5 linked regions of the Homo sapiens genome follow. The protein of the gene in region 5 interacts with the protein of the main gene of each other region in a biochemical or structural test. Each region holds a gene or a part of one and is shown on either strand. Other genes may lie near its edges. The genes, in order: ESR2, APLP1, VDR, GLI3 and MED12.

Region 1 (3,878 bases), on a different chromosome or scaffold from region 5:
TGTAAAGTGAGCACAAGGCTGGGGGTGCTGGCTGATTACAGGCAAATCTTTTTTTTTGAGATGGAGTTTCACTCTTGTTGCCTAGGCTGGAGTGCAATGGCGCCATATCAGCTCACTGCAATCTCTGCCTCCCAGGTTCAAGCAATTATCATGTCTCAGCCTCCTGAGTAGCTGGGATTACAGGCATACACCACCACACTAATTTTTGTATTTTTAGTAGAGACAGGGTTTCACCGTGTTGGCCAGGCTGGTCTCGAACTCCTGACCTCAAGTGATCTGCCTGTTTCGGCCTCCCAAAGTGCTGGGATTACAGGCATGAGCTACCATGCCCGGCCACAGTAATAGACAATTAATACAATATCTGAGGGGTAATTCATCACTTTCTTTCCCAAAACCACTCATTTCCTATTTGTGTTAATAGAAAAAGCCCATCATAGTTACCTTTGACTTCTCCCCTTGACTCAGTTAACTTTACTCATCAAGGCACATTGGCTTTTTTTCCCAATGCCTTTTTTCCACTGTCTTTTGCTGCCATCTTGAAGTAAGCTCTCATTATCGCATTACTTTTTTTTTTTTTTTTTGAGACGGAGTCTCGCACTGTCACCCAGGCTGGAGTGCAGTGGCGCAATCTCGGCTCACTGCAACCTCCACCTTCCAGGTTCAAGCGATTCTTCTGCCTCAGCATCCCGAGTAGCTGGGATTATAGGCGCCCGCCACCACGCCCAGCTAACTTTTTGTATTTTTAGTAGAGACGGCGTTTCACCATGTTGGCCAGGCTCGTCTTGAAATCCTGACCTTGTGATTTGCCCGCCTCGGCCTCCCAAAGTGCTGGGATTACAGGCGTGAGCCACTGTGCCCGGCCAGCTCTCATTACTTCTTATCAGTGCATCTGTAACAGGCTTCTTACTGCTCCTCGTCCCCAGTTAGCTTCTCCTCCAGATCCATAGAGTTGTCAGATTCATGTTCTTAAAACCCAGCTCTCTGCTTCCCACCAAACTCTAAGTCACATTCTTCGAGCATTCAAGGGATGCCACTATGTTGCCTCAACCCATCATTCCACACGAATCTCCTGCTGTTTTCTTACAGAAAACCTGCTATGTCCATTAAGAAACATGCAAACTGCATTGTGAGGTGGTTGGCTTGTTATACCTTCACACTTTTTTTGCTCATAGCACCCCTTTAATCACTTACATACAAACCTAATCCTGCTTATCAGAACTACCTTGAACCCTTCTTCAAAATGATAGAGGTGCATAGGAGAGTAAGAAGTAAAGTCAATGCCTGTAATCTCAGCACTTTGGGAGGCCGAGGTGGGTGGATCACATGAGGTCAAGAGTTTGAGGCCAGCCTGGCCAAGATGGTGAAACACCATCTTCACTAAAAATACAAAAGTTAGCCAGGCGTGGTGGTGCATGCCTGTAGTCCCAGCTACTCGAGAGGCTAAGACATGAGAATCACTGAATCTGGGAGGCGGAGGCTGCATTAAGCTGAGATCGTGCCACTGCACTCCAGCCCAGGTGACAGAGTGAGACTCTGTCTCAAAAAAAAAAAAAAAAGAAAAAGAAAAAGAAAAAAAAAAGGAAATTCAGATTTTTAGCTCCTTGAAAGCAAGTACCATTTCTTACTCACCTTGCACTGAAACTCAATCAATATTTGTCATAAGGAAGTGAGGAAATGTGTTCAAAATGTAATATTTCACCAAGTCAAGGACATTAAAGATGGGGGGTGCTGCAGTAGGCATGGTAGTATGCTGAGAAAAGGGACTTCAAGGAGTTCTGGGACATACACCCTGCCTTCAGGGAGCTAATGTACCAGGAAGAGGCAGGACAGACCAGGTAAAATGATAAGGAACTAACACCAAAGTGGTACCACTTCCAACCAACATTGTAAATCAAAAATTTGGACCAAGGAGAGGAGAGAGAATGGTAGCTGGAGAAGGATATAGGATCAAGGAAGGTTTGGTGTTTGGGTTTTATTTTAATACTATATGTAATTAATAATGAGTATGGAATTTTATATTTCATTTTTTTTTTACATGGAGTTTCGCTGTGTCACCCAGGCTGGAGTGCAGTGGTACAATCTTGGCTCACTGCAACCTCCGCCTCTTGACTTCAAGTGCTTCTCCTGCCTCAGCCTCCCTAGTAGCTGGGATTACAGGTGCCTACCACCATGCCCAGCTAATTTTTTGTACTTTTAGTAGAGATGGGGTTTCACCATGTTGACCAGCCTGGTCTTGAACTTCCGACCTCAAATGATCCACCCGCCTTGGCCTCCCAAAGTGCTGGGATTACAAGCGAGAGCCACCAGCCAGAATTTTGTATTTTAATTACTTAGATTCCTGATCAACATAAACAATTCCTTATTCTTAACAGAAAATATGCAGGATAAAACATATAGTGATAACTATTGCCAAAACTAGCAGTTTCTAAAGTGGTTTTTTGTTTTGAAATGAAATCTCACTCTGTCACCCAGGCTGGAGAGTGCAGTGGTGTGATCTCGGCTCATTGCAACCTCCACCTCCAGGGTTTGAGGCGATTCCCCTGCCTCAGCCTCACAATTAGCTGGGATTATAAGCATGCACAATTAGGCCAGGCTAATTTTTGTATTTTTAGTAGAGATGGGGTTTCACCATGTTGGCCAGGCTGGTCTTGAACTCCTGACCTCAAGTGATCTGCCCGCCTTAGCCTCCCAAAGTGCTGGGATTACAGGTGTGAGTCACCGTGCCTGGCCTGAAGTTGTTTTTTTTTTTTTCTTTTTTAATTGTGTTAAAATACATGTAACATAAAACTTACCATCTTAGCCATTTCTAAGTATAAAGTTCAGTAGTGTTAAGGATATTCACATTATTGTGCAACCAATCTCTAGAACTCATTTCATCTTGCAAAACTAAAACTCTCTGTTAAACAAATTCCCCACTCCTCCCTTCCCCCAGCCCCTGGCAACCACCAGCCTACATTCTGTCTCTATGGATGTGATGACTCTGGGTACCCAGCAGTGGTGAAACCAACTATCAGACCCCACCAACAAATGACAAATGCCAGGATACACCTAGCCAATCAATCAGGTGCATGGCAACTTTGCTTAGAAAATACAGATCTCACATCTCAACATATCACCAATCAACTTCTGTAGAATTTCCACATATCCCCAGAAGGATGATAATTAAAGTTAGAGAACTGACTTCTGGAGAGTCATTAAAAGGCTAGGTGCTTTTTGTTTGGATATATTTCAGATATATCAGATTCACATGATTCACAGATTAACTCTTTGTCAGTGGCATCTTGAATAGTTAGGTACTTGGTAGCCAATGCAAAGAGTTTTTCTTCCTAAGCAGAGCCATAATAAGGGGAAGAAATGATGAACTTACACCATTGTAATAGTTCTCTGAGACAGGAGAACAGGTAGCAAAAAAAGACCTCCTTTCTACCAGAGGTCTGTAAAAATAAGTCAACAAACCCATTCTGGTTGAGAAGCCCTCCTCTAAAACAGAGATATAAACTGGTCAAAGGAAAGACTCCCCAAAAGATTTAATTTCTTTAACATTGTAGGGCAGAGTTTTCCCAACACATCGATTGAATGTTCAAACATGGCCTCAGTACAATGTTCTGGTACAACAGGAAAAAATTGTCTCTAAAGAGTTTAATTGTTGGGCCTGGCATGGAATTTCACCTGGCCAACCAAAGAACCAGTACCCAGACATCCTGATTCTAAGAATTATTCATTTATTTGCATGTCAATTTTCTTTAGTCACCATAACCTAAAATAGTTGGTCCATATCCTGGGTGGTGAACAGGCTTTGTTTTCTGTCCAGAGACCTCTCTCTCTCTCCCAGCACACACCCCTGTATTTGGCCCTCTCAGGTCACATCTGAATTCAGC
Region 2 (3,878 bases), on a different chromosome or scaffold from region 5:
TCATCTTCTCTTTCTCAGGGGATGCAGCATCTTGTTCTGTGGACCCTACCCCCAAGTCTGATCTCATTCTTTTTTTTTTTCTTTAGACAGAGTCTCACTCTGTCACCCAGGCTGGAGTGCAGTGGCATGATCTCAGCTCACTGCAGCCTCAACTTCCTGGGCTCCAGTGATCCTTCTACGTCAGCCTCCTGAGCAGCTGGGACTACAGACATGCCCCACCACACCCAGGTAATTTTTAAATTATTTGTAGGTACAGGGTCTCATTATGTTGCCCAGGCTGGTCTAGAACTCGTGGCCTCAAGGGATCCTCCTGCCTCAGCCTCTGAAAGTGCTAGGATTACGGGTGTGAGTCACCAGCGCCTGGCCCTATCTCATTCTTTAGGGTCCAGAGGAGGGGGCTGGAAAGTACATCAAACTCTACCCCAGGGGGTCTGAGGTTCCCAATGGATGGACCCTGTTTCCTTCTGGGTTCAGGGATTCAGTGGGATTTGGAGGCTGGGGTTAACTGTGAGACACTCACCTTTTGGAAGGGTCATGGGGGTGTCTGCTGGCAGCCAGAGGAAGCAAGGGAGTGGAACAGTGAAGAGAGGAGGGTATCAGCAAAGAAAGGTGGAGAAACATCCTTCCAGGGACTAAGAAGGAGGATTGGGGATCCTACAGAGGCCCCTGCAACCTTAGACGTTCCTCCTCATCCTCTCCCAGTCACTGTGGTGGTGAAGACACCCTCAGACTCTAGGGGATTACAAATTAGGCTGGGGCCTGTTCCCTAATGTCTGGGGTCATCTATATGTGGGCTCACTCACCATCCTTGGAATCTGGAGGCTGCAGCCCACCCTTGTCCTCGCTGCTGCCCCCAGGGGCAGGGGCTTCCAATTCACTGGGACCCAGGTGTTCAGAGTGGAGGAGTTCCTCTGAGGGGGACATGCAGAAAGGTGGCTGAGGTAGTGAGCATAGGGGTGAGTGGAGGGCACCCTACCAGTAGAGCAAGTGGGAGATCATGCAGACAGCAGAGTCAGCCCCAAGTGTGGGGTAGCCAGAAGTGTGATCTGAGAAAGTGGGAAGCTGGATGGAGGCACTGCTGGCAGGAAGGATGGAGGCTGAAGTTTCAAGATTATGTTTTTTTTTTGTTTTTTTTTTTTTGAGACAGAGTCTCACTCTTGTTGCCCAGCTGGAGTGCAATGATGCGATCTCAGCTCACTGCAACCTCCACCTCCCGGGTTCAAGCAATTCTCTTGCCTCAGCCTCCTAAGTAGCTGGGATTACAGGCAAGCGACATCATGCCCGGCTGATTTTTGTATTTTTAGTAAAGACGGGGTTTCACCATGTTGGCCAGGCTGGTCTCGAACTCCTGACCTCAAGTGATCCACCCGCCTCGGCCTCCTAAAGTGCTGGGATTATAGGCGTGAGCCACCGCGCCTCAAGATGATAGCTTTCTTAAATACTAGGAGAATCAGGGTTATGTGTGAGATATCCAGGAGAAAGACACAATAGATGTGGGGGCTGCAATAGGTCACACTTTCCGGTATGCATATAGGTTCCTTCCCTTGAATCTGGACTGAATTTGTAACTTGCTTTAACAAATAGAATGTGGGCCCAAGCCTTAAGACCTAGCAACTTCCACTGTGATGTCTTAGAGAGCATAAACCACCATGTAGGGAATCTAGCTACCCTGCTGATGAGACCACATGGAGAAGCTCCACGGAGAAGAGAGGCCTTGCGCTTCCTTGGAGAGAGAGAAAGGTCCATTTGTGCTAGACTCCCAGCCCCTAGATGATCTGCTAGCTAAATACAGCTGCATGCTTGACCACTGGCAAGACCACTGAAAGAACCACTCTGCTGAGCGCAGACCGGATGGCAGAATCATGAACAAAGAAAAATCATTGTTGATTTTCACTGCTAAGGTCTGGGCTGTTTGTTATAGAGGAATAAATGAAATTGGGGGGGCCCAACATTTAGGAGTCAAGATCTGCCCTCAGAGATCTGTAATGGGAGCCAGGGTAATAGACACTCACGGATTTGGGGCCGCAGCTCCTGAGCCAGGTGGGGGTTCTGGTCAAGCAGGCCCAGGCTCTGATTCACCCTCTCCTCAATCACTTGAAGGTGGGTATGCACCTGTGGGTGAGTGGACATGAAGGATGAACTGCGCAATGCAGGCTGGAGATGAGGAAACTGAAGCAGTATGAAGGAGGAATTCAATAGCGACTGAGGAAAAGCGGCACATGCAATGGACAGGATGTGTGGTACAAGGGTTAGGAACTGGGCCATAGGAGAAGGAAATTGAAGAATAAAGTCCAAGGAACAGAAAGTGGGGTTTGAGGGGATTCCAGAGACAGAGATTGAGGATTGGAGGGTCATATAGAAATGACATGGTTCAAGGCAAGATTTGGAGTTCAAGAGCACAGAATGGAGTTTCATAGACAGGAAGAAAACATCCAGGAAAGGGGAATTCAAATTTGAGCGCACAGAACAGGGGTTCCAGGGAAAACAAGTGAAGTTATGGAGAAAGGAGGTTGAGGGACAGGAAGAGGGTTCAAGGAACAAGAAGGAGATTCTCGACCGGGCGCGGTGGCTCATGCCTGTAATCCCAGCACTTTGGGAGGCCGAGGTAGGCAGATCACCTGAGGTCAGGAGTTTGAGACTAGCCTGGGCAACATGGCAAAACCCTGTCTCTGCTAAAAATATTAGATTGGTGCAAGTTATTGGGGTTTCTGGCCGGGCATGGTGGCTCACGCCTGTAATCCCAGCACTTTGGGAGGCCGAGGTGGGCAGATCACCTGAGGTCAGGAGTTCGAGACCAGCCTGGGCAACATGGCAAAACCCTGTCTCTGCTAAAAATATTAGATTGGTGCAAAAGTTATTGGGGTTTCTGGCTGGGCATGGTGGCTCACGCCTGTAATCCCAGCACTTTGGGAGGCCAAGGCAGGCAGATCACCTGAGGTCAGGAGTTCAAGACCAGCCTGGCCAACATGCTGAAACCCGTGTCTACCAAAAATACAAAAATTAGCTGGGGCCGGGCGTGGTGGCTCACACCTGTAATCCGAGTACTTTAGGAGGCCAAGGGTGGATCACCTGAGGTCGAGTTCAAGACCAGCCTGACCAGTATGGTGAAACCCTGTCTCTACTAAAAATACAAAAATCAGCCAGATGTGGTGACACCCGCCTGTAGTCCCAGCTACTCAGGAGGCTGAGGCAGGAGAATAGCTTGAACCCAGTAGGCGGAGGTTGCAGTGAGCCCAGATCATGTCACTGCACTCCAGCCTGGGAAACAGAGCGAGACTCTGTCAAAAAAAAAAAAAAAAATTAGCCCAGTGTGGTGGCAGGCTCCTGTAATCCCAGCTACTCGAGAGGCTGAGGCAGGAGAATTGCTTGAACCCAGGAGGTGGAAGTTGCAATGAGCCAAGATCGCACACTGCTCTCCTGCCTGGGCGACAGAGCAAGAACCTGTCTCAAAAAAAAAAAAAAAAAAAAGACGATTCTGGGAAAGGCAGTGAAAATCCAAGGGACAGAACATAGGATCGACGGCGGGGGGAGTAGGAATCCAAGGGCCAAGAAGCAGGGGTCAAAGACACAGCATGTGAGGGTCCATGTTTCAGGGTCAGGAAGCTGAGCTGAGAGACTGGGAAGGGGCAGAGAAGCGGTGTTCAGGGGATAGGAAGGGGTCCAAGAGACAGAAAGAGGGTCTAAGGGACAAGAGAAGAGCCTGAGGCGCGGGCGTCTGAGGAATAGCGGCGCATTTGGGAGCTGGAAGGATGTGAGCACCTGGAAGCGCATCTGCTGTGCCTTCTCGGGATCCACGGCGGCCACATGCTGGTAGTGGCGCAGCGTGTGCCTCTGTTCCTTCTGCTCCGCACGCAGGTAGCGCCGCAGGGCCAACAGGA
Region 3 (3,878 bases), on a different chromosome or scaffold from region 5:
AAAAAACACATATGTATATTTAGAAAAGAAATTGTGCTGTATACAATCTGATGACTTGCTTTTTTTTATATGGCATTGTTTTTCCATACCAGTTAGTACGCATCCAGAATATAATTTTTAAGGGCTGCATAGTATTCTGGAATACAATAATGTACCTAATCCCCTACCATTGGATATCTGGATTATTTCTCAGCATTTTAATAAGAAAACAGTATACTTGTAGCCAAATATTTACACTTATCGGAAATTTTCCCTTACAATGAATTCCAGGAAGTGTGACTACTGGTCAAAGAGTACACACAATTATTTGACTAATGTCAAATAGCTTTCTAGAGTACCTTCAGTAATGTGCACCTCCTTTAGCACCCCAGCCCTCATAGGCATTGCCTAATTTCCTGCATCTTTATAAATACTGGCATCAATATTTAAACATTTTTGTTTCTGGTTTGTAGGTGAAAATTATAGATGTTCTACACTGCAGTTCTTTGACCATTAGCAAGGTTGAACATTTTTTTCCATGACTTGATGGGTCCCAAATTCTTTCTTGATTGAGATCCATAGGAACAGCACACAGTCTGCTTGAGGAAGTCTCATTGCTCTGAGTGTCTCTGGCTCTTTGATTTTACTGCCTTATGCTGCTGAAAGAGGCAGAGAGAGTCCCAGAGGGAAGCCTGGGGCTGAAGGGTGACCTGTGGAGTCACTGTGGGATTCCCAGCTGGCTCTGCTGCCAGGGCACACCAGGTTTTTGCAGGGTCTGGCAGGAGGGGGCCTGGTCCAAGTATCCTTAAATAGCTCCTTCTCTTCCCTCATCTCTCCCAGACATGATGGACTCGTCCAGCTTCTCCAATCTGGATCTGAGTGAAGAAGATTCAGATGACCCTTCTGTGACCCTAGAGCTGTCCCAGCTCTCCATGCTGCCCCACCTGGCTGACCTGGTCAGTTACAGCATCCAAAAGGTCATTGGCTTTGCTAAGATGATACCAGGATTCAGGTAAGAAACTTCTGCAATCTCTGGGGAACAGAGTCAGAGTCCTAGACTGAGCTACAAGAAGGGTTGGAGATCACTCATCCACCACTTCTTTTTTTTATTTTTTATTTTTTTAAACGGCATCTTGCTCTGTCACGCAGGCTGGAGTGCAGTGGCGCGATCTCGGCTCACTGCAACCTCCGCCTCCTAGGTTCAAGCGATTCTCCTGCCTCAACCTCCCAAGTAGCTGGGATTACAGGCACCAGACACCACGCCCGGCTAATTTATTTATTTATTTATTTATTTATTTATTTTTATTTTTTTTCCAGACAGATTCTCGCTCTGATGCCCAGGCTGGAGTGCAGTGGCACTATCTTGGCTCACTATAACCTCCGCCTCCCGGGTTCAAGTGATTCTCCTGCCTCAGCCTCCTAAGTAGCTGGGATTACAGGTGTGGGCCACCAAGCCCGGCTAATTTTTATAATTTTAGTAGAGACGGGGTTTCACCACGTTGGCCAGGCTGCTCTCGATCACCTGACCTCGTGATCCAACCACCTTGGTCTCCCAAAGTGCTGGGATTACAGGCATGAGCCATCGCGCCCTGCCCTAATTTTTTTATTTTTAGTAGAGACGGAGTTTCGCCATGTTGGCCAGGCTTGTCTCAAACTCCTGACCTCAAGTGATCCACCCACCTCAGCCTCCCAAAGTGCTGGGATTACGGGCATGAGCCACAGCAGCCAGCCTCCATTGCTTCTTTAAAATAGAGATTCAGACCCTACCCTAGACCTGCGAAATCAGAATCTCTGGCGTAGGCCCAGAAATCTGTATTTAGAAAGTGCAGCCTGTCTTGCGTTACTCTGCAGGCCAGCACTGGAGAGCTAGTCCATCCCCGCACTTTCTGGATGATGGTGTGGAAGCCCAGAGAGGTCCAATGGCCAGCCAGGATCCCTTCCAGGTGTTGGAGCCAGCATGTCAGAGCCAGGCCTAGAACTCCCAGCTCACTGCTGTGTTCACTCCAGCTGGCTTGACTGGAATCCTCATATTATCTCTTTAAATTCAACGATATGATTCCTCCACACCCCAACTCTGAGAGCAGAATGAAGTGATAGAGAGAAGGGCTTGGCCATGTAGACTTGTGAAACAGTCTAGGAATCCTGGAGAGAGATAGGTTTACTGGCATATATGACCCTGGCATCCTTCACCAAAATGTACATTTAAAGACCATTTCCTGGCTGGGCACAGTGGCACATGCCTATCCCAACACTTTGAGAGACTGAGGTAGGAGGATTGCTTCAGCCCAGGAGTTCCAGACCAGCCTGATCAACATAGTGAGACCTCTTCTCTACAAAAAAAAAAAATTATAAATTAGCCAGGTGTGGTTGCACATGCCTGTAGTCCCACCTACTAGGGAGGCTGAGGCAGGAGAATCACTTGAGCCCAGGAGGTCAAGGCTACAGTGATCCATGATTTCACCACTGCACTCCAGCCTGGGCAACAGAGCAAGACCCTGTCTCAAAAAAGAAAAAAATAAAGACCATTTCCTAACCATACTGATACATTTTTGCCAAAATATATAAGTATAAGGAGTTCTACTGGAGAAGGGATCCTCCTTTATCAATTCATTCATATAAATTTCATTCATTTATTCCTATGTTTCATTGTTTTAACACTAGTACTGTATATAATACTTATATTTAAATACTCATGCAGTGTTAATTTTTTTTTTCTTTTTTGAGACGGTTTCGCTCTTTTCACCTAGGCTGGAGTGCAATGGCGCGATCTCAGCTCACTGCAACCTCCGCCTTCCAGGTTCAAGCAATTCTCCTGCTTCAGCCTCCCAAGTAGCTGGAACTACAGGAGCGTGCCACCATGCCTGGCTAATTTTTTGTATTTTTTTTGAGACAGAGTTTCCCTCTTGTTGCCCAGGCCGGAGTACAATGACGCGATCTCAACTTACTGCAACCTCTGCCTCCTGGGTTCAAGCAATTCTCCTGCCTCAGCCTCCTGAGTAGCAGAAATTACAGGCACGCACCACCACGCCTGGCTAGTTTTGTATTTTTAGTAGTAGAGTTGGGGTTTCACCATCTTGGCCAGGCTGGTCTTGAACTACTGACCTCAGGTGATCTGCCAGCCTCAGCTTCCCAAAGTGCTGGGATTACAGGCATGAACCACCACGCCCGGCCAATATTCTTTTTTTTTTTTTTTTTAATTGAGGCAGAGTCTCGCTCTGTCGCCTAGGCTGGAGTGCAGTGGCATGATCTCGGCTCACTGCAAGCTCCGCCTCCCGGGTTCACGCCACTCTCCTGCCTCAGTCTCCCGAGTAGCTGGGATGACAGGCGCCCGCCACTACGCCCGGCTAATTTTTTTGTATTTTTAGTAGAGACAGGGTTTCACCGTGTTAGCCAGGATGGTCTTGATCTCCTGACCTCGTGATCCGCCTGTCTCGGCCTCCCAAAGTGCTGGGATTACAGGCATGAGCCACTGCCGGCCAATATTCTTAAAACAATAGAGTATTGACACATTTAATAGATGTGTTGGGAAATGGCTATATTTATGTATATTTGTATCTTCATTCTTCCCCAAAGTTCATTTGGTATATTGCCATAAAATACATAAACAATATGGTTGAGAAAGAGAAGTAAATCAATCTCAAGCAATGTTATTGTCTTTCAAGTAGCAGCAATAGCTGTATTTACGGCAGAAGGGGCAAAATGCTTCCTAGATACTAATGCTCAGATTCAGTGCTGGAATATGGGGAGCTGGAAAATGAGTTAACATTGCCGGCTCTGGATGGAAACAGATTATGAGGTGCCATATATTGGTGTATGGCCCTCTTAGCTGTGTAGAAAAGCCATGAGTTATTGCCGAAATTAATGCCTTGCCAGTGAGATGATGGTCATTCACAGAGCTA
Region 4 (3,878 bases), on a different chromosome or scaffold from region 5:
AATGTAGAATGAAAGGAGAGTTTCTCAAAGCCTGGTGAAATTCTCCTAGGGTATTCTTAATGATATTCAGTCTTAAATGGGCAAGCTATTGTAATGTAAGGTTCTCTGCAGGAATGATAGTAATGTAATCCCATTGAAGCTGCCTGTTATGGATTGTAGTCAAATAGGCAAAATGTAGAGTCACATTAATGAACAGAGTATATCTTTGGAATTATTACTTAAAGTTGTTGAAATGGTTTGAATTTTGCTATTGTAATTATTTTATTCTCCTTTAATGCGCTTAATAGCCATAGTAATTAACCCACCAGATTGGAAATTTGCATGAGTTCTAACTTTGACATTACAAGAAACCCTGATTCTTTCTGGGTATTACACAGCAGGACAGGGAGAAATACATACATATATATATATAAATATTTTTTTCACTGATTATTTTTTTAAAAAGAAATTTCCATGAATGCAATTATTAGTTTTTCATGCATTTTTAAGCCATTGGCAAATTCCTTAAGAACACTCCATTCTTTTAAGAGGATTTGATTCCAGAACCACACTGGCACAAAGAATGATTTGGCATTGCCTGCTAGTCGAGAAATCTTTAGGTATTATCACTGCTTCCTCAGGACTTACTGTAGCCTGGGAAATAGTGTGGCATAATAAAGTGGTGACAGTCATTAGCATGCATAATGGGCTTTAATAGACATTAAATGCTGTTTAGCTAGAAGAGGGAGCAGTGCTCTCCCACTGGAATATTCCTCCATCGAAGCCCATTGATCACTGATTTCAGCGGGGAGAGGTTAATCCATCAGCTTCTGTAACCAGACGGCACTGATGGAAATTCTTTAGGTGGCATTCTGGATGAACCAAGCTTTCCATCTTTACAAACAAATGAGTGATATGACAAGCATGGTGTTCAAAACACATTTAACCAATTGATTTTCTTTCCTCTTGTAATAAGATCTGGAGACATATGAAAGCGTGCAGTGTGAGCTAAGATTAAAGGAATTGCTCCATGCACAGGAACATACGGAACTAAGAGCCAATAAAAGTCCTATAAAGCATGTAGTCACCCATTCTCTTTTTATATAAAGTTTGTTATTGCAATAAATAGTTATTATTGAACTGATGCCTTTTATTTCCGTTTTTGCAGAATCTTGTTTTAGGTCTGCGTGTATGTGTGCACACACATGTGTGTCTCATCTCAGTGTTCATCTTTCTCTTAGAAGTTTTCAAGATGCTTGGCAATAATCCTACCTTCTCATTTAAACAAATTTGATTTGGGATGGTAAAATTATAGATAGAAAGCTGCAGATCTTGTGTACTTGTCTGAGCTCAGCGTTTAAGTGATGATCGTCTTTTTTTATCTCCCCCGTGCAGCCCTGCCTTGAGCTTCACCTACTCTTCCGCGCCCGTCTCTCTCCACATGCATCAGCAGATCCTAAGCCGACAACAGAGCTTAGGTTCAGCCTTTGGACACAGCCCTCCACTCATCCACCCTGCCCCAACTTTTCCAACACAGAGGCCTATTCCAGGGATCCCTACGGTTCTGAACCCCGTCCAGGTCAGCTCCGGCCCTTCTGAGTCCTCACAGGTGAGAGGGACAGGTCGATGCACCCGGCCGTGCTGGTCAGCCGAGGGTGGGGGCAGGCCACCACGTCAGCTGTTAATCAACACGGCACCTCTGTGTTCTCACAGCCTCTGTACTAGCATCCTGTCTTCTTAATGCTGAGGTCTAGTCTTCAGTTTTGGTGGACGTGTTGTGTAAATGCTTCTCATCAAACAGTTTTTTCCCCCAGGGTCATTTTCCCATGGGCATAGCAGCAGGCTGCTTGATAAGGCTTCACTGTGACCTGGTGCCATCTGTAACCTGCATCCCATGTCAGTGCAGCATGTGGATGCATTGCTCTCATTTGGTCACTGTTCACTCCCTCCGCTAGAACCACAGTTGCGACTTACCACCAGGTGGTACTTTAGAGTAAGACTAAAACTGTGCTTTGCCCTGCGTTAACTGTTGCCACTTTGATATTGTTTGGAGAAGAATCTGGTTGCTCTAATTAAAGAACTTCACAAATGGAACGTGTTGGTCTTCTACCCTCCTCACAACTTTGTTCTTTTGAAATACCCTGTTGGAGCTTGTTAAAGCCTAGGGCCTCAGCTCCATTCTTCTAGCTTTTAAAAGCCATAGGGAGTTTATACTCACGAGTTAAAAATGAAGAGCTGCCGCATGAACGTATTTTCTAGCTTTGAACATACTATCTGAACTCTGCTTACACTGGGATTGGAGAATTATCAGAGTCATTGCTTTATAGCCAAATAAGACCGCTTGTCCCGAGTTGGCAAGGTTTTAATTATGGTACTGCTCCTTGTTGATGAAAATCTTTTTGTCTCTGGCTCTGCAAATGTGACCAGCAGAACAAGCCCACGAGTGAGTCTGCAGTGAGCAGCACTGGTGACCCGATGCACAACAAGAGGTCCAAGATCAAACCCGATGAAGACCTCCCCAGCCCAGGGGCTCGGGGGCAGCAGGTAGGACACCGAGGCCGCACAGGCCAGCGCCCACTCCTCCCAAGACTGGTGTCTTTGGGTCAGCTCCCGCTTCCTCCCCAGACCTGGTGTCTTTTTCACGGCAGTTCCTTGTCCACTGCATTGTTGACCTTGGCCGTACTCTACATGTTGTACAAAAGGCTAGATATGGAGTGACTAAATCATTTTTCTAGCTCAGAAGCAAACACAGGCAGTGCAGGAAGCCATGCGGGACATACCTTCTTGATAGTTTAGGCAGCTTGGGAGTATTGGCAACTGTAGTTCGTAGAGGAAATGGTTGCATTAATTTGTTGCTGGCCACAGGTGCGACCAGGCCTCAGTCCTCATCTGTGATTTTGGGCCTGAATTATTGAGCTCCTGGACCCAAGCCTGAGCTGTGGCGGATCTACTGATGGCTCCTATATCATTTTTTCTTATTTTGCTACTTCCCACTTTCTAGGAGAGCCTGGCGAACCAGAAGGGATGAAAACATAACTAACCTAAGGCTAGTTGGATTCTGGCACTCAGCCTAAAATTCTGAAAGGAAGAGTGTAGGATTTCAATCCGGACTCCGCCTCTAGTCACTTAAATTCTCTGGGCCTCAGTTTAAGGATGTGTAGGTTATACCCATAATATCATCTCATAGGGCTCTCAGCCTGATGCAGGAAGGAGCTCTATGAATGCTAATTCCCCACCATAGAGATTGGACAAGAGTCCAGATGTCCACAGAATCTGGACCTTGCTGTCATCAGGCTGCTTCAGCCCAAACCTCAGACTGCTTGCCCAAATTTCCTTTTCAGCAAGAACGTGGAGGCTGGAGTAAATTGTGTCACGGGCTCTGAAATGGATCTTTCCTCTTGCATATCGCCAGACAGCAACAACCTTGCTGGTTACACTTCAATGCCTGCATATGGCTTTTATCATCTAGCCCTGGATTGGGACCTGAATCTACACAAGATGAATTCTCAAAATGACTTGTATTGGCATTGCTGTGAAGCTGCCACAGGGGTTTAGGAAGGACTGTGCCCCTGAGCTTTGATGCTGTGGCCCCTGGGCCCTGGGTAGTGAGCATATCCTTAGAGATCAGAGGTTGAATCGAGAGGGCATTATCCCTATAAAGTCTACAAAAGTGTCTCACACAGTCTCCAACAGCAGCGAAAACAGCATTAGAAGTACTAGTAAACCATTTCCCTGGATTACAAAATATAAGAATAAACAAAGTAACAGACCAAAAATAATTAAAACAACTAAACAAAATAGAAGTACCAATCTTTTGGGTAAAGACCTGATTTGATTTATTCTCTTATGAGCTTTGTTTTGTTTTTTGTTTGTTTGTTTTACGTTTTGTTTTGGGTTTT
Region 5 (3,878 bases):
AAAGCATGCTCCACACCCCTCAGCATCCACATGCTAAAGCCCTTCCCTTTCCCAACCCACATCCTCAGAACAGCTCCAACCCCTCAGCAAATTCCTTTGACAGCAATCTGGGTTCAAAACAGATCATCACAAGGTGCTGGGGAATAGTACCTGGGGGATGGGAAAATGGGTGGCGTACTGCACGTGTCGTGGCTGGTCGTAAAGAACCCCAAGGGTCCCTTCAATCTTCTCCTTGGGTGGGGGCTTCACCTCCTTCTCGACATCTGGCTTCTCAGGGGATGGACTGCCCTTCCCCTCACAGGGCATAGTAGGGGAGAACAACTGAGAGAAAGGTGAGAAAGCAGAACATGAGAAGAAGGAAAGTGGATGAGGGGGCAAAAAAACATGCCAAAAGCAGGCATAATGGGAAGATCCAAGGATCCAGATTCTGCCACGCTCAGGATTGAACTTACTGAGAAATCAGGCTTCTCCATGTCCTCAAAGAGAACACTGGAACTAGGGTCAATGTCCATAGATTCTGAGAGCCCTGGATCCTGAGGGCATAGAACATAAGCGAAGTTGCTTTAGCCCTAGGGAGTGGCTCCCACCATCTGTAAAACTTCATTGGGGAAGTGGAGAGAGAAGACCAGATTGGGGAAAGCACAGGATCTGGAGTCAAGCCTCATCCAATCACTTAACCAGTATAGGCCTCTGTTTTCTTCAGTTTGAAAATGGGGATAAGAGTACCTCACAAGGCTGATGGGAGGAACCAATGAAACAATTGATGTGAGAGTGCTTGGTCAATCACCAAGTGCTAAGAAAAATACTACCCCCCTCCCCCAGGCAAAAGAGGCTCTTAGAGGCCCCTGGGAGCCATGAAGATGGAAATGTCAGAAGAAACGATCTAGTGCAAGGAAAAGCCCACTCACTTCCAGCTTGCTGCTGCTGCTGCCTTCAGCCTCCTTGTGCTCTGGGTCATCGGCAGGATCATCAAAGGGAGAGGGAGGCCGGGGACCAGGGGCTCCAAAGGCAAGGTCCCCTCGGGAGATGAGAGTGCAAGTATACATGTTGTGGGAGAAAACATCATGTCGAATCAGTTCACAGAACAGCAGTACTAAGTTAAAGAATTCCACCCGCTCACTCTCACTTCGAGGGTCCGCTGGAGGAAGGGAATGAGGAAACATAAGTTAGGAGAACACAAAAAGGTGGGCCAAAAGAGAGAGGGACACACCTAAGGCAATAATAAGAGTGATCAAATAGAAATCCCAGAAATTGTTGAGGGACAAAGTGTGGTTGGTTACCCCACATGCTGTCCCACACATCATCTCAGAAAGGAATGTAACATCTTTGTTGCGATTTATGCAGTGAAAATGCTTCAATCACAAGCTCTTGTTTTTATCCTTCTCTGTATTTCTCTACTCTGTTTAACTGTAAGATGACCAGTTAAAGAGGATCACTAGAACTACATCTAAAAGTCATTCTGCATAGAGCCCAAGAGAGAAATATAGACCAGAGGGCTGTTAATTATGCTTTCTGATGACAGTGGTGGGTAACTGAGTCTAGGCAGAGGTAACTAGAGAGTGGTAGGGGTCCGTACTCAGCATGGGAGCCTGTGTATCCAGAAACTGCAGGAGGACATCCTGGAAAATGGGAGCACTGGGAGCAGAAAGGGAGCCAGAGGCGATGGAACCCTTCTCATCTGCGGCTTCTGATTCTCCACAACGCTGCAAGATGACAGAACAAATTGTAGAACTGACTTTTACCTGCTTCTTCACTCCTCAATGTGTAGGCCTTAAACTACCACCTGCTTGACCTCTACCCCATGCTTTTCACTTTCATTCCCCTGCTGACCTCCATGTTCTTTACCACCTCCCAACTGAAGCCTTGATGTTATCTCTAACTCTTACTACAATCCACTCTTCTCTACTTTCGCCTCACGTCCGTAACTTTGCCTTTAGGTTCTCTTTTGCTTCTTTACTCTGTTCTCACACCTTCAACTCTGGTCCCTCCACCACCTCCATCTCTCGGTCTCCAACCGCAGTAAATTCCTTCCCATTGGCCAATCTTGTTCTCTTATCTCTGCCCTCTAACCTCAGCCTCAATCTCCGCCTGTCTCTTCTCCAGGAGCTTGGCTACCACCATAGCACGATGCCGACCAGAACGCTTGCAGCTGACAGCCCATTCACATAGCAATGACACCACAGCATCATCATCTGAGGAGATCTGGAGAACAAAGGAAGAGAAGGAGGAGTAAGGTAGGGGTGGGGACAAAGAAATGAGTTCCAATTTCCTAAAGACTGGGCTCTATCATAAAACATCCTGGGCCCAGTAAGATCATTTCTGCAGATATGCTCTGCTTTCAATGCCTCACCATGACTTCCCTCTCAGACATATTATTGCTCTTGCAATGTTTTTTGCTCCTTCTATTCCCCTTTTCGCTTACCTCATGCCCATCCTTGCTAGGTCCCAATCCAAAGATTCGGTTACAAAGGGAGTCAAGAGAGTTGCTGAAGTCAGAGCGTTCAAAACTATGGCTGTCCAGCACTTCCAAAGTATGAAGTACCCGTCCAATGGTGAAGCCTAAGGAGGAAAAGTGGTAAAGGGGACTGAACCAGAGGCCCGGTGCATTCTGGCTCTTAGATCTACATGTCCTTACTATCCCCATCCTTTCCTCAAACATATTTCCTATTATCTGTTCTCTGACACATACCTGCAGTAGCTTCCTGGCATTTATCGAAAGACCAGCGAACTTCAACTGCCTGTCCCCGCTCCTTGATCTGCTGCTCGATCTCCCGCAACTTTGCACGGACCTGCAATGTTAAAAAGGAAGGCTACAAGGATGTACCAAGGCATATAAAAGGCCAGAGCCCCAGGCTAGAAGAATAGTACTAGACTCCAAATCACTACTTCTGAAAGAGTAATTTAGCCTCATAGCCCAATCTGAGAGTACCAGGCTAGTGGTCAGACATACCTGCTGAGTGAAGGCACTGTTACCCTCTGGCATGGGCAGGTTGGACGGGGCAATAGGCAAGTGGTCAAGTGGTGAGCCGGTCTTAATTCTGCTATCAGTCAGTGAGTAGTGCCAAACCAAGGCACTAGGACAGCACAGGAGGATGGTCTACCAGATAGAAACAGCTAAGTCCAACTCATTCACCATGGTTACCCCTCTGGAATCCCATTCTAAGACCCAACCCGTAGATTCCAGATCCAAAGTTATTCTGACTGGGTCCCCAAGACAGGCATCACTCCACCCCGATCCCCTCCCTTCACTCACTTTCCTAAAAGGCTTTGGGCCCACTATTTAGCCTTGGAAGGGAGAGAGAGGCTGGTGAAAACCCCCAAAGGGGACTAACACCCCATTACCAAGAAACAACAACCTCCAAGCAAGTACTCAGCACCTACTCCCACATCCAATTTGGAATTACCCCTATTCTCTGGGATGGGCACCTGATTCTTCTCAGGCTATCTCTCAATGCTTCCTTGGGCCCGCCTAGTACCTACCTGTAGGATACAGCTGAGGCCAAAAACCAGGGGCCGGTGCTGAGGGCACATAAGCAGGTCACTAAAGGGAGTCGAGGGTGTGCTGCTAGTTGGGGGCTGAGGAGCAGGGGTGGTGGGTAGCGTGCTTGTTGACTGAGCAGATATAACATGAGATGAGTGACTGCTCACACCATCCAGCTGCAGGGCCAGTCTCCGTGTACAGAAGTAGGCAAGCCGGCGGGACAGGTATGCAGACTGAACAAATTCCCCAGAGTACTGTGAAGACACGACCATCAGAGCCCCTAGTTCTCTCCAGGGGACCCTGCTCTAACATTTTATTCTTCCTCAAATTCTTCTTAGACTCCCCCTGCCCCACCAGTACCAAAATTCCAAGCCTTACTCGGAGAAGCAGAGGCAGC

The links.
Region 1: the proteins of MED12 (region 5) and ESR2 form a complex in vitro, tested with the Homo sapiens proteins (one study listed by BioGRID).
Region 2: the proteins of MED12 (region 5) and APLP1 form a complex in vitro, tested with the Homo sapiens proteins (one study listed by IntAct).
Region 3: the proteins of MED12 (region 5) and VDR form a complex in vitro, tested with the Homo sapiens proteins (one study listed by BioGRID).
Region 4: the proteins of MED12 (region 5) and GLI3 form a complex in vitro, tested with the Homo sapiens proteins (one study listed by BioGRID).

Annotation. Positions count from the first base shown.
Region 1 is NC_000014.9:64,284,287-64,288,164, forward strand, and holds part of ESR2 (estrogen receptor beta), read right to left. Parts: intron 1-3,878.
Region 2 is NC_000019.10:35,874,751-35,878,628, reverse strand, and holds part of APLP1 (amyloid beta precursor like protein 1 isoform 1 precursor), read right to left. Parts: coding exon 3,760-3,878; intron 2,113-3,759; coding exon 2,013-2,112; intron 912-2,012; coding exon 804-911; intron 548-803; coding exon 521-547; intron 46-520; coding exon 1-45. UniProt on the Homo sapiens protein: May play a role in postsynaptic function. The C-terminal gamma-secretase processed fragment, ALID1, activates transcription activation through APBB1 (Fe65) binding. Couples to JIP signal transduction through C-terminal binding.
Region 3 is NC_000012.12:47,852,743-47,856,620, reverse strand, and holds part of VDR (vitamin D3 receptor), read left to right. Parts: intron 1-819; coding exon 820-991; intron 992-3,878.
Region 4 is NC_000007.14:42,023,909-42,027,786, reverse strand, and holds part of GLI3 (transcriptional activator GLI3), read left to right. Parts: intron 1-1,374; coding exon 1,375-1,588; intron 1,589-2,409; coding exon 2,410-2,523; intron 2,524-3,878. UniProt on the Homo sapiens protein: Has a dual function as a transcriptional activator and a repressor of the sonic hedgehog (Shh) pathway, and plays a role in limb development.
Region 5 is NC_000023.11:71,121,419-71,125,296, reverse strand, and holds part of MED12 (mediator of RNA polymerase II transcription subunit 12), read right to left. Parts: coding exon 3,860-3,878; intron 3,736-3,859; coding exon 3,481-3,735; intron 3,098-3,480; coding exon 2,951-3,097; intron 2,790-2,950; coding exon 2,690-2,789; intron 2,560-2,689; coding exon 2,423-2,559; intron 2,203-2,422; coding exon 2,071-2,202; intron 1,704-2,070; coding exon 1,577-1,703; intron 1,139-1,576; coding exon 909-1,138; intron 534-908; coding exon 453-533; intron 322-452; coding exon 151-321; intron 1-150. UniProt on the Homo sapiens protein: Component of the Mediator complex, a coactivator involved in the regulated transcription of nearly all RNA polymerase II-dependent genes.